4 linked regions of the Homo sapiens genome follow. The protein of the gene in region 1 purifies or fractionates together with the protein of each later gene. This does not show direct contact. Each region holds a gene or a part of one and is shown on either strand. Other genes may lie near its edges.

Evidence for each region. The genes of interacting proteins can lie anywhere in the genome.
Region 2: the proteins of RLIM (region 1) and PHGDH purify together in Homo sapiens (affinity purification with mass spectrometry, with the first as the bait; one study listed by BioGRID). This does not show direct contact.
Region 3: the proteins of RLIM (region 1) and MYO1C purify together in Homo sapiens (affinity purification with mass spectrometry, with the first as the bait; one study listed by BioGRID). This does not show direct contact.
Region 4: the proteins of RLIM (region 1) and TRIOBP purify together in Homo sapiens (affinity purification with mass spectrometry, with the first as the bait; one study listed by BioGRID). This does not show direct contact.

The regions. Positions count from the first base shown.
Region 1 is NC_000023.11:74,583,625-74,587,124, reverse strand, and holds part of RLIM (E3 ubiquitin-protein ligase RLIM), read left to right. Parts: 3' UTR 1-3,500. UniProt on the Homo sapiens protein: E3 ubiquitin-protein ligase.
Region 2 is NC_000001.11:119,718,434-119,721,933, forward strand, and holds part of PHGDH (D-3-phosphoglycerate dehydrogenase), read left to right. Parts: intron 1-1,444; exon of another isoform or gene 1,445-1,459; coding exon of another isoform or gene 1,460-1,486; intron 1,487-2,736; coding exon 2,737-2,888; intron 2,889-3,500. UniProt on the Homo sapiens protein: Catalyzes the reversible oxidation of 3-phospho-D-glycerate to 3-phosphonooxypyruvate, the first step of the phosphorylated L-serine biosynthesis pathway.
Region 3 is NC_000017.11:1,479,187-1,482,686, forward strand, and holds part of MYO1C (unconventional myosin-Ic), read right to left. Parts: intron 3,373-3,500; coding exon 3,292-3,372; intron 1,700-3,291; coding exon 1,520-1,699; intron 1,440-1,519; coding exon 1,341-1,439; intron 520-1,340; coding exon 406-519; intron 317-405; coding exon 245-316; intron 1-244.
Region 4 is NC_000022.11:37,700,048-37,703,547, reverse strand, and holds part of TRIOBP (TRIO and F-actin-binding protein), read right to left. Parts: intron 2,243-3,500; 5' UTR 2,183-2,242; coding exon 2,069-2,182; intron 1-2,068.

The sequences.
Region 1 (3,500 bases):
CACTTATTTATTTTTATTTTATTTTATTTTTTACTTTTTGAGACAGGGTCTTGCTCTGTCACCCAGGCTGGAGTGCAGTGGCATGGTCACAGCTCACTGCAGCCTTGACTTCCTGGGCTCAGGTGATTCTCCCACCTCAGCCTTCCAAGTAGCTGGGACTACAGGCATGCACCACATTGCCTGGCTAATTTTTTGTGGAGATGGGGTTTCGCCATGTTGTCCAGGCTGTTCTTGAACTCCTGGGCTCAGGCAATTTGCCTGCCTCATTCTCCCAAAGTGCTGGGATTATAGGCGTGAGCCACTGCGCCCAGCCTTACTTATTTTTAAATCAGATTTTTTAATCAACTAAAACAGCTATGAGTTAAGTACCTGCCCTGCAAAAATTTTTAGAAAAAGTTTTAGGATTATGAAATTAAGAATTATTTTCCTTAACTGGAACAGTTCTAAAATTTATCTGATACTTCTCTAACAAGTGAGTGATCTCATGTAACCCCAGTTTGTATCTTAAAGGCTGCAGCATAGAATTGAGCTGTATAACAGTGTTAGAACTGTCAAGTGATAATCACAGAACAGTTTGTATCGGTTTTATAATTCTCATGTCTTGATCAGATCTGAAGGAAATAGGCATACCCTCCAACATTCTAAAAATTATTTATTTTTATTAGGATTTGTTTATTAAAGTTCCACGAGCTGCTTTATGGTCAGTTGGGCTGAGTAGTAGATATCTTAAAGACATGCAGTGAAAGTGAACCCTGTCATATCATGGTGCCTCTTTCAAGGTTCCTCTGTAAGTTCCTCATCTTGCAGAATTATTTCAATACCAAGGTATGGTTGAACCAGCTGTCCAGCCTTAACTCTATTTAGTGCCCCATTACTAATGTTCTTTTAACTGGTTTGTATGTGTTTTAACTGTCCAGTGTTTGGATTTTACCTCTTGATAGCTCCATTTGTCCCTGGTGCTGCTTTTAAGGATGTAGGGCCATGTGATCAGGTATCAAGTTGAGTAGGTACGCAGTTGGCCTGGTGATGTATCTGTGCCTGTTTTATCTTCTCCCAGGAAGAGCTGCTTTGGTATAGTTGTTTACTTGGATTCATACAAAGAACAGGGCAGCAATCTTGGAAAGCTTTCTGAAGCTTATAAGAACCTGAAGGGGTTTGGAGGGGGAACAGTAACAAAGGCTGCCTTTATGTCTTTGGTCACAAAGCACATAGATGTATGTTCTGTAAAGACTAAAGTGATTGTTATACCAGGGCTTCCTGACCTTCGGGAGAGACTCAAAAAAGCAGAGAGGAGCACAAAGTGAAGTTAATTTGGTTGGCTTGCTTTATCTGGTTTCTCATTTTCTTTCAATTTAAACCTGAACATAACACCCTTCTCCGATACCTATCCAGCAGACTCCTGGTTGGGAAGCCCTGTATTAAATTTTGAGAATGTACACAGTTTTCTTTTGTACAGTGCTTTACAACTGCTAAAAGTTAACTTGTTTAAAGCAAAACAAGACCTTGAAAGGTCAATCATATTAAAGCTGGTTTGATTATTAATAGTTATCTTTTAGGAAGAAGCTTTTTTCCCTATGTAAGATGTCATACTGCAGATTTAAAATATAGACTATCAATAAAATGCATGAAGTGATCATTTGTGCTTGATCATCTCTCCTTGGGTTTTTCTTTAAAAAGGGGAATCTGCTATAAAGGTTCTGTTGCTTCAAACCAATGTCAAATAGACTTGATTTTTAGAGTCATGGAATTACAGTGCAACCTTGATTTTTATTCCCCTCACTGCTATGAGTGTGGGCAGGTACTGGTTTATATGTTATAACTTCCGTTTTATCTGTGTTGTGTAGTTGAATGGCTTAATCGTTGAGTGGTAAAATAAAAGATTATATTCCAATACAAGAATCCTGGAAAGATTTATGTGAATGACATTTTAAGTAGGCGCATCTTTGCTGTTTCTTGTATTCTCGCCATTGCTCTGACCACTCCCTTGCTTGCCCTGTATATATACAAAAACTTGTAGGTGTGCACGTGTGCTTGTACTTCTGTCTTCCATTTCTATCTTAATCTCTTAAACATATTGCTTAAGCCACTAAGATGTCCTTGTTTCAAGTAAATCGTCACATTGTGACACCTGGTGTATTGTATTATAGTTTCATTTCCTCTGGTGCCTGCAGAGCTATCTGTCATTGGCATCATAACTCGGTTTCTCAGGATAGTTTTGATGTAGTCAGCTCTTCAACTCATGACCTTCCCAAGGTTTTAAGTTTAGTGTCATTCATGATTTTATTATTTGAAACTCAATACCACCATCAAAAAGTTAGTGCTCTAGACAATGAAGCCAAAGCACAGGCATCTTAGGTCAGTGAAAAGGATCCAGACATAAATTAGCCAGGTGTGGTGGTACACAGCTGTGGTCCCAGCTACTTGGGAGGCTGAGGTGGTAGAATCACTTGAGCCCGGGAGGTCAAGGCTGCAGTGAGCCATGATCATGCTGATGCACTCCAGCCTGGGTTACAGAGCAAAACCTTGTCTCAAAAAAACCCCCAGATACCTAGAAGAAAGGATTCGATAAATCTGGGTGGATTATAAACTGAACTCTTAATGGTCATTTTAAAAAATAAGAAAGCAAGGGTCCAGTTTCTTTGAGGTCTTTGAATTTAGACAAGATTTAACTATAAGGCCTTGCATGGATTACTAACTATAATTAAATTAGCTAAACTTTTCTGGTTGCTGTCAGGCATTGTATTAAGTATTCTATATAAATTATTTAATCATCACAGTGACTGTGAGGTGAAAGTATACCACCCATTTTATAGGTAATGCAGCTGAGATACAGATGTTTGGTAATTTGCCCAGGTCACATAGTAAGTAGCAGATTATTTGCAATCATCTTTGATGCAGTCATCTTCCTTGTGCTCTTAATCCCACTACTATATGACTTCTAATTTGTTTCTTAGTATTTATCCCAAGCCCTAGACTAGATTGCTTATGAGGTGTGATTTCTTAGGAAAAACATCAGTTTTGGCTGGTTTGCCAAGAAAAAAAAAGGCCAAATTGGTTTTTGTTTATTTTTTTGTTTGTTTGAGATGGATTCTCGCCCTGTCGCCCAGGCTGGAGTGCAATGGTGCGATCTTGGCTCACTGCAACCTCTGCCTCTGGGTTCAAACGATTCTCCTGCCTCAGCCTCCCGAGTAGCTGGGATTACAGGCGCCCGCCACCACGCCCAGCTAATTTTTCTATTTTTAGTAGAGACAGGGTTTCACCATGTTGGCCAGGCTGGTCTTGAACCCCTGATCCCATGATCTGCCCGTCTCGGCCTCCCACAGTGGTGGTATTACAGGCGTGAGCCACCACGCCCGGCCGCAAATTGTTTTTTGTTTTTTTGTTTTTTGGAGGATTAATGGTAATATACTGTAAATTCAGTAAAGCACTGGGCATTACCAGATACACCTTAGCACTATGAATAACATGAACTATCATTTTAGCAGTTTAAGTGTACCTTG
Region 2 (3,500 bases), on another chromosome or scaffold:
TCCAAGGGATTTTACAGTTTGGTTTTTGCACCTAACTGGCCATGGCCTTGGCTCTGGCCCTATCTTCTTGACATCTTGGCAGGTCTACCAACTCTTCTTCAGTTACAGTCTCAGAGTTAGCCAGTGGCAATGACTTTCCAGTTCTTGGCTGGTTTTTGATCTGTAAGAGTGACCTTGGGCAGGTTACCTCTCAAAGCCTCTGTTTCTTTATCTGGAAACTGGGGATGATTATACCCCTTCTCCTTGGAGTTGTGAAGAGAATAATGTAAAGCAACTGGTGTAATGCCTAGTACCCAGCAGGTGCTCAATAAATGGTTTATGTGCTGGTGAGGCTGGTACTATGGATATATGGTATAGAGTAGATAAAGTTTTAATATAAAATCCCTGCATTAGGCATAGAAAATATAACTAAGGAGACCAAAACTGCAGGTCTAAGAGAGGACAACTAGATATGAAACATATTATATTGGTGATCACAACAAAAATGGTGGGGTGTAGGGAGAGTGACAGTTCAGGGTTGTTGGCAAATGTTTCCTGGAAGATAACTTTATTGCACCTTGAAAAGTCAGTAAAGTGTGTCCAGGCAGGGAAATCCTTTTCTTTGGAGCCTGTGTGGTGGACTTGAATGTGGAAAAGATGCCAGTATCCTGTTTCTGCCTGGCTTGGCTGATATTTAACTAGGCTGCTATGGGGGGAAATCAGAATACCTCCAGGTGCTCACCTGGTGTTGGCCTCAGCACTGGGGCAGTCAGCACTGAGGTGGCTTCTGTTTGATTCCTCTAAGCCCTGGGTGCCCATGTGACTTGTATACACCCAGGTCATAATCAGTTTAGCATAATGCCAGATACGTACATAGCGGGCATCCGATAAAATGAAGGAAGAAAAGTACAGGGGAGGGGAAGGGAAAGTAGGCAGGCTTAACTTTGTTGGGCTTCAGTTTTTCCTCTGTAAAATGGAGTTGGACCAGATGCTGGTGAACATTTCTTCAAATCTCCCACTCTGACGTTCTGCTTCAGAACCTCAGACATAAAAGGATTTGGAGTGTCTTCCAGGCCGCCTGCATGTTTCTCTCTGCTGGTAGGCACAGCCCCCAAGCAGTGAGGATGTGTGATGCATAAACACCTCCAGAGGAATCGTTCTACTATTGCTCTTGAACAATTCTTCCAGTGTTTAGAAGCTCTTAAGGCTTAAATATTCTATGCTGCAGCCTAAGCATCATTCCTCTTCTCTTCTTAGTGGAGATAAAATTACCCACTGCTCTCCTTACATTTACTTTGTCCATATTTGCTCCTATGCTCTAGGCTCGTGCACAACAAACACAGTGTGGGCCCTTACCCTAGAAGCCAACTTCTCATGACCTTTCTCTATCTCCAGAATCCATGCAGTGGGAATGAAGGTAAAAGAAGGTTTTCATGGGATCCAGCTGAGAGCTCTACGGGGAAAATGGATCTGAGGAGCCATGTGCTCCATCTCTTTTATTTTACAGGTAGAGACTAGGGGTATAGAGTGAGGTGAATTACCGCAGTGACCCACACATTGTTGGCAGACCTAGGATTAGAACTCTGTCTTCCTGGTTCCCAGCTTGGTGCTTTTGAAAGCATACTTGCTGCTTTCTTACCGGCCTGGTGTCTGCCACTTTGGGACAGAGTGTGGACTTGCTCACCTGCCCCATTTCTTAGGGATTCTCATTCTGTGTTTGAGCAAGAATATTCTTATTCTGGAAAGAACCACATACCACAGGATTCTGGGTGAGCATAAGGAAGATTGTCTTGGGGATCTGACTTAGCTCACGTATAGTGGCTATGATGAATTCAGTGTCTTATTTTTTGCATATGTATATTTTTAGTCTAATATTGCCTGGGTGTCTGAGCAAGTCTAGATGAATTTAATTGCTCTCATTTTTCCCCTGCCCCTCTTCCTTTGGTCTCTCTTTTAGGAAATGTTTTTCTTTCAACATTCGTTTCATTCATTATTTACTCATTCGGCCAACCAACATTTATTGAGTGCCTTCCCTGTATCAGGGACAGGGGCTTACAAAGTAGAATTTGATCCCACCTCTGCCCTCAGTAGCTCAGTGTCTAATGGAGGTAGTGATGTTCATTAAGCGTCGCCAGATACTGTGCTAGGTGCTGTGCCTGTTCTCTCTCGCTTGTTCCTCACACACTTGAGAAGGCCGAAGCTGATTCATAGCTTGGAAGGCAGGGGCCTTGGATTTGAACCCAGGCCTGACCAATGGCAGAACCTATCAGATGTGTGGACAGATGACATTGCCTTTCTTTCTTTGGATATATCAAAATCAGCCAGCAGGCAGGAACTCCCATTTTGAGCAAGCAATGTGCAGGAATGATAGGGTATACAGAGAGGAACAGGAGATGGCCCCTGACTTCCAGCATGTGTCTGATGGACATCCAGGCTGCAGGCATCATGGTGCTGTCTAGAGAGATGAGCCAGGTGCCCAGAGCCCATGGGCCAATGCTGCCCTTTCTTGAGCATGCCAAACAAAGCGGTTGGTGTGTTAGAGGCACAGTCTCCTCCACTCTAAGTAAAAATCAGCATGAGTCCTAGCCCACATTTCCCTAGTGAGTATACCAAAGATATCTATGAACTGGCAGTCATCAGTGACTTCCTAAGGTTCCGGAAATGCATCTCTTACTCAGGAGTAAGCAATGATGTGCCTGCGGCTTTACGAGTTCTCACAGAATGACTTTCTGGACCCAAATGTTTTTTCTGCTTCAGGACTGTGAAGGCCTTATTGTTCGCTCTGCCACCAAGGTGACCGCTGATGTCATCAACGCAGCTGAGAAACTCCAGGTGGTGGGCAGGGCTGGCACAGGTGTGGACAATGTGGATCTGGAGGCCGCAACAAGGAAGGGCATCTTGGTTATGAAGTAAGTCATGGAGGCTGCGGGCGGTTTGGGGGTAGGGGGGTGAGTGCGGAGACTGACCACACCTAGGGAGAAAAAACTCACTTGAGAGAAAGCTGAGTCCATTGGAAGGGCTTCCAGGAGGATGCCTGGTCTAGGGCCTGCATGGTCAACACACACAGCATAGTGGTTTCAAGGTTTTTGGAAGGCAGCTATGCTCACCACTATATCACCAATGCCATCAGGGTGTTACACAGTTTTTGAAATTGAGAGTCCCTGCATAATCTCAAAATGTTTCACGAGCCCACCCCATGCGCAGTTGCTTGCACCTCTGTGACCTGGTTCAGGAATCGGAAGGTCAGTGAGTTCATCTGCATTTCCTGCTCCCACCCAGCCCCCTCTGCCTCTATTAATGCTGTTTGTGGCAGGTTTTTGTCAGCTCTACTTTACTGTGCTTGTACAGAGGCACAACCTTTGCTAGCAGACTAATGACTAGAATCCTTGCCCTCCCCACTTCCCTGCCACCTTCTGGAACTAAGACACTAGTTTCTCTTTCAGTGCTCTAGGGCAAGAGGAGAAGGGTCCCATTTAAAGCTGTTTCTGCAGAAACACAGGGGCAGAGGTCATCAGCACGCC
Region 3 (3,500 bases), on another chromosome or scaffold:
TTCACCATGTTGGCCAAGATGGTCTCGAACTCCTGACCTCAGGTGACCTGCCCACCTCAGCCTCCCCAAGTGCTGGGGTTACAGGCGTGAGCCACGGCGCTCGGCTCTCACTCTGCTTCTCTGAGCAGCCTTCCTTCCATCCCTCCAGCATTGCTGAGGGAACCAGGCGAAGGGGAGTGATGGGAGTAGGGGCTGCCTTGGAACAGCTGCCCCTCCACACCCGAGGGCAAGGGCCCGGCCTCACCTCCTCCCCCTTGGCGATGATCTTCCTGTGTGTCAGGGCTTCTCGCAGCGTCGAGCCTTCCACGCTGAGGAGCTGCCAAGGGCAGGCGAGGACACGGTGAGGGTGCACCCCCAGCCCCCGCCCCCGCCGTCCTCCCGTCGCCCTCTGCCCGCCCCACTCACCCTGGTCAGATACTTGAGCTGGTTCTCGGTGGTGACCTGGGCATTGCTCTCCTCGTTGGCAGCAAAGTGGATGTTGCCCAAATGAAGGACGCTGGCCACGATGCTCAGCAGGTCCTGGGGGAGCAGGCCGGGGGCAGGAGGGGGTGAGAGGGGCCAGAGAGCCCCAAGAGGGCAACTAGCAGATGGCCATGCAGGGGTGGGTGGTGAAGTGTCGGAGAGAAGGGGCTGGAAGTGGGAATGGGTGTTAAAGGTGGAAGGTGATTCTGCGGGTGGGATGGGCACGGTGGCTGACGCCTGTAATCCCAGCACTTTGGGAGGCTGAGGCGGGAGGATCATCTGAGGTCAGGAGTTCGAGACCAGCCCAGCCAACATGGCAAAACCCCATCATTATTAAAAATACAAAAATTAGCCAGGTGTGGTGGCAGGTGTCTGTAATCCCAACTACTCAGGAGGCTGAGGCATGAGAATCACTTTAACCTGGAGGCAGAGGTTGCAGTGAACTGAGATCGCACCACTGCACTCCAGCCTGGGCGAAAGAGCGAGACTCCATCTCAAAAAAAAAAAAAAAAAAAAAAAAGGGATTACTGGCCCACGCCTGTAATCCCAGCACTTTGAGAGGCTGAGGCAGGCGGATCACCTGAGGTCGGGAGTTCGAGACCAGGCTGGCCAACATGGTGAAACTCCGTCTCTACTAAAACTACAAAAAATTAGCTGGGCGTGGTGGCGGGCGCCTGTAATCCCAGCTACTCGGGAGGCTGAGGCAGGAGAATTGCTTGAACCCAGGAGGCGGAGGTTGCAGTGAGCTGAGATTGCACCACTGCACTCCAGCCTGGGCAACAAGAATGAAACTCCGTCTCAAAAAATAAAAAACAAAAAAAAAAGGAGATTTTGGGGGTGTGACAGGAGGAAAGCGAGGGTCCCGGAAGAGGCCTCACCTCCACTTCATCCTCGGTGAAATCAATGACTGTCAGAGCCTTCCTGACGACCTTCCAGTCACTCTTGTCGTTGATGGAGGAGACTTTGGCACACTGGCCCTGGAGGAAGGGCACAGCTGGGTTGCCAGCCCTGGCACCAGATCCCTGGGTGGCACCTGCCCTCCCTGCCAGCCACTCACCTTCACCAGGTACAGGTAGCTCTGGGGGTTCCGTTCCAAGCCCAGCCTGCGAAGAGTCTCCTCCTCGCCCCCCTCCAGCAGCTGGTAGAAGATGTGGAAGTTCCGCTCCCCATGATTCTGGTGCACCACTCGTGACTTTTCCAGGAGGTAACTGAGGATGTGGCCACCCACGGGGGCACCCTGTGGGCAGGGCAGGGCATGAGGCCGGGTCACGGGGACTGGGAAAAGAGCCCACCTGCCCCTCTTCTCCCCTGCACTCCTGGGCTTTGGCAGCCAGACCTGGATGCCAATTCCAGCCCTGCCACTAGCTGCGTCGGCTCAGGCACGCCACCCACGCTGGACTCAGTTACTTCATCTAGGAAATGGGGAGATTCAACTCCAACGACCTGGCTGCTCCACCTGGATGCCTGACAGGTATCGCAAATTCAACAGGCCTGAAGCTCAACACCGGACCTTCTCCCTCTTCAAACAAGCTCCTGTTAGTGTCTGCCCTCCTTGGTCAGTGGTGACTACATCCTTCTCGTTGTTCAAGCCAAGGACTTGGCAGTCCTCCTGGAAGCCTGTGTTTCTCCAAACCCTACATCCAATCAGGCAGCTCATCCTGCTGCCTTAACCTTTAAAACATCCAGAATCCAATCACTGCTCGCCACTTCCACTGCACCACACTGGTCTGAGCCAATGTCACCTGTCACCTACATGATGACATCAGCCCCCTAACCGTTTTCCCTGCTTAGCCTGGTTCCCCTCCCATCTATTCGTCTACTCCCAATCTCCCAGTGAAGCAGCTAAAGTCATTTTTTTATTTTTTATTTTTGGAGACAGGGTCTTGCTTTCACCCAGGCTGGAGTGCAGTAGTGCAATCACAGTTCACTGCACCCTCGAACTCCCGGGTTCAAGCAATTCTCCTGCCTCAGCCTCCTGAGTAGCTGGGACAACAGGCACACACCACCGTGCCTGGCTAATTTTTGTATTTTCAGTAGAGGCAGGGTTTCACCATGTTGGCCAGGCTGGTCTTGAACTCCCGACCTCACGTGATCCACCTGCCCCAACCTCCCAAAGTGCTCAGATTACAGGCATGAGCCACCTCACCCAGCCCGATGACTCCCCTTCTACTCAGAGTTAAAAAAAAAAAAAAAAAGTTCTTGCAACAACCCAAAAGGGCCTGCACCGTTTGGCCTCTCTCTGTTCGCGGGCCCCTGCTCTCTTCTCTGGCCGCTGTGGCCTCCGTGCTGTCCTGGAACACTTCCAGCACCCTCGTATCTCAGGCCTTTGTCCTGGCTGTTCCGTTCCCGCTGCCTGGACAGGCACCTGCACAGCCTGCTCCTATCTCCATCAAGCCATTATTTTCTATTTTTTTTAGAGACAGGGTCTCACTCCGTAGCCCAAGCTGGAGTACAGTGGCATGATCATAGCTTAGGGTAACCTTGGACTCCTGGCCTCAAGTGATCCTCCTGCCTCAGCCTCCAGAGGAGCTGGGACAACAGACATGTGCCACCCTACCCAGCTGTCAAGCCTTTATTAAAATGCCACTTTCTCAGTGAGGCCTACCCTAATACGACCGCACCTGCCCCCCACTCCTTACTGCATTTTATTTTCTGCCACGGCCTCAATTTCCCTGTTTATTGTTTATCACCCTGGAAGGCAGGATTTTTGTTTGCTTTGTTTGACTGCTGGAATTGCAGCACCTGGAATAGTCCCTGGTACCCAGTAGGTGCTTCACACGTGTAGAGCCTACTGAATGGGAATCCTCACGACACACACATCCATGGTACCTTGAAGTCAAACTGCACATCCATGTACTTCCCGAACCTGCTGGAGTTATCGTTCCGGAGGGTCTTGGCATTTCCAAAGGCCTAGGAGTGGACAGGGGTATGAGGGACACCTGGCACTCTCCCCCTGCCCTCCCCACCCCGCCTTGTAGCTACTGCTGCCCCTCCCCTCCCGCACTGGGCTTCTCTCCCTGCCCCTCCCCTCCCCTCCC
Region 4 (3,500 bases), on another chromosome or scaffold:
GGGCAACAGAACGAGACTCTGTCTCAAAAAAAAAAAAAAAAAAAGAGGACCTTCAGACCCCAATGGGAATGACGAAGCCATGGTGGTCAAGGTTGGAAGGGCCCTCGGAGGTTCGTGAGTCCCAGGTTTCTCATTGCGTGTGTATCAGGTGCTCTGTGTTTACATGCATGGGGGCTTGGCAGCAGACTACATCAATCACAAAGTCAGAAAAGGACTCTTCTTCACTCCTTCAATAACTTGAAGAAGAAAATCTCGGCCAGGCGCGGTGGCTCACACCTGTAATCCCAGCACTTTGGGAAGCCGAGGCAGACAGATCACAAGGTCAGGAGTTCGAGACCAGACTGACCAACATGGTGAAACCCTGTCTCTACTAAAGATACAAAAATTAGCTGGGCATGGTGGTGGGCACCTGTAATCCCAGGTACTCAGGAGGCTGAGGCAGGAGAATTGCTTGAACCCAGGAGACGGAGGTTGCAGTGAGCTGAGATTGAGCCACTGAACTCTAGCCTGGCGACAGAGAGAGACTCCGTCTCAAATGAAAAAAAAAGAAAGAAAAAAAAGGATTCTTCTTCACTCCTTCAATAACTTGAAGAAGAAAATCTTGAGACCAGGTGCAGTGTCTCACACCTGTAATCCCTGCAGTTACAGAGGTTGAGGTGGGAGGATCACCTGAGCCCAGGAATTTGAGACCAGCCCTGGCAACATAGTGAGATCCCATCTTTACAAGAAAATTAGCTGGCCATGGTGGCATGTGCCTGTAGTCCCTGCTACTCAGGAGGCCAAGGTGGGAAGATCATTTGAGCCTGGGAGGTCGAGGCTACAGTGAGCCATGTACTATAGGTTGGACCACTGCACTCCAGCCTGTGCTACAGAGCAAGACCCTATCTCCAAAAAAAAAAAAAAAAAAAAAAAAGAGAGAGAGAAAGAAAATCTCTAGATGATGCTGGTGTATTCTTAACATCTCTCTAACATCTGCTAATCTCCCTTTTTGACAAAGAGACAGCAGGATGCAAGCTCAGAGCCTTCCATAGAAAACACTCTCGAGGCCAGGCGCGGTGGCTCACGCCTGTAATCCCAACACTTTGGGAGGCTGAGGCGGGTGGATCACCTGAGGTCAGGAGTTTAAGACCAGCCTGGCCAATATGGCGAAACCCCGTTTCTACTAAAAATACAAAAATTAGCTGGGCATGGTGGCAGGCACCTGTAATCCCAATACTTGGGAGGCTGAGGCGGGAGGATCGCTTGAACCTAGGAGGCAGAGATTGCAGTGAGCTGAGATCACACCATTGCCATTGCACTCTAGCCCAGGCGACAGAGTGAGACTCTGTCTCAAAAAAAAGAAAAAGAAAAAGAAAACACTCTCAAGTTAGGGTGTAACGACATTTCTGTTTTGTTTTTTCTTTTTCTACCTTTCTTCTCTTTTTTGTTTTGTTTTGTTTTGTTTTTTGAGACAGTTTCATTCTGTTGCCCAGGCTGGAGTGCAATGGCGCGATCTCGGCTCACCACAATCTCCGCCTCCCAGGTTCAAGTGATTCTCCTGCCTCAGCCTCCCAAGTAGCTGGGATTACAGGCATGCACCACCATGCCCAGCTAATTTTCACCATGTTGGCCAGGCTGGTTTCAAACTCCCGACCTCGGGTGATCCACCCACCTCGGCCTCCCAAAGTGCTGGGATTACAGGCGTGAGCCACCGTGCCCAGCCTCTACCTTTCTTCTTAACCTCTTCTTCTTAACAGGAAGTAATTCTAGTTTTCTACTTGTGTTGATGATGTGAAGTTTTGTTTCAATAGAAGGGGAAAAAGATGTTGATTTAAAGAATAACAAAGTAAGTAACAGATTAGATAAGGCTATGGTAACAATCGTATCATATAAGCAGGAGGAAAGTGACTGAAGATTGTGAAACATTCACATGGTTCAACCACTTCCCTGCAATGTGGGAAAACCGAGGCTCTCGACAGGAGGAAGTCCAGCATCTGGGTTCAACTGCGAGTTAGCGGACACCACAGGCCCAGTCCTTCACCCATGCCCCCATCACAAACCACCCCAACCACGTGGAAAACTGGCCCACCTGGTATCTTGCTCCATGGGCCTCCTCAGGGTGGAAGCAGTTTTGACAGCGGTTCTGGGTAAGTATGTTGGCCTCAAAGTGTTCACACAGGGCATCCCCAGGCACCTCCTCCATATTGGGTGAGTCAGGCCAGGGCAGTTCCTATGATCCAATGGCTGACCGTCTATGTGAGGCCTGGCAAAAATGAGGGGGAGGCAAAGACCAGATGACTGGCTGGCCACTCACCTGAACCCCAGCCCCAGTTGCCCCAGTTTCCAGACAAGGACCAAGGAAATAAGGTTACTCATCCATTCCTTTGGGTTCCTGTTCTCCATCCATTCCTGTTCATTTATTCACTCAACAAACACTCACTAAGCACCTACTAAGCACCAGGCACTCTGCCAGCATTTGATGTGCGATTTCTAGTCCTTACTGCAGTGTTGCTGAAAGTGCACGCCAAGGACTCTGCATTACACCCTCCTGGGCTGTTCATAAAAATGCAGATACCAGGCCAGGCACAGTGGCTGATGCCTGTAATCCCAGCACTTTGGGAGGCCGAGGTGGGCCGATCACTTGAGGTCAGGAGTTCGAGACCAGCCTGGCCAATATGGTAAAACCCTGTCTCTACTAAAAATACAAAAATCAGCCAAGTGTGATGGCACGTGCCTGTAATCCCAGCTACTTGGGAGCCTGAGGCAGGAGAATGGCTTGAACCCAGGAGGCGGAGGTTGCAGTGAGCCAAGATTGCGCCATTGCACTCCAGCCTGGGCGACAGAGTGAGACTTCATCTCAAAACAAAAAACAAAAAAATGCAGATTCCAGCTGGGCCCATTGCGGGCGGCGGATCATTTGAGCCCAAGAGTTCAAGACCATCCTGGGCAACTGGCGAAACTCCGTCTCTACAAAAAATACAAAAATTAGCTGGGCAAGGTGGTGCAGGCCTGTGGTCCCTGCTACTCAGGAGGCTGAAGTTGGGAGGATCACCTGAGTCTGGGAGGTCGAGGCTGCAGTGAGCCATGACTGTGCCACTGCACTGAGAAAAAAAAAAAGCAGATTTCAGCTGGGTAAGATGGTGTGCACCTGCAGTCCAAGCTACTCGGGAGGCAGAGGTGGGAGGATCTCTTGAGCCCAGGAGTTTGAGGTGGTAGTGTGCTATAACTGCACCTGTGAATAGTTACAGCACTCCAGCCTAGGCAACATAGCAAGACCACATCTCAAAAAAAAAAAAAAAAAATCTAGATTCCCCTTTCTCTCTCCCAATTCACACAGTTAGAATCTCCAAGAGACTGAGGTCTGGGGCTGTGCATGTTAAAGAAGTGATTCCAGCCGAGGGCGGTGGCTCACGCCTGTAATCCCAGCACTTTGGGAGGCTGAGGCAGGCAGATCACTTGAGGCCAGGAGTTCAAGACCAGCCTGGCCAACATGGTGAAACCCCGCCTCTACTAAATACAAA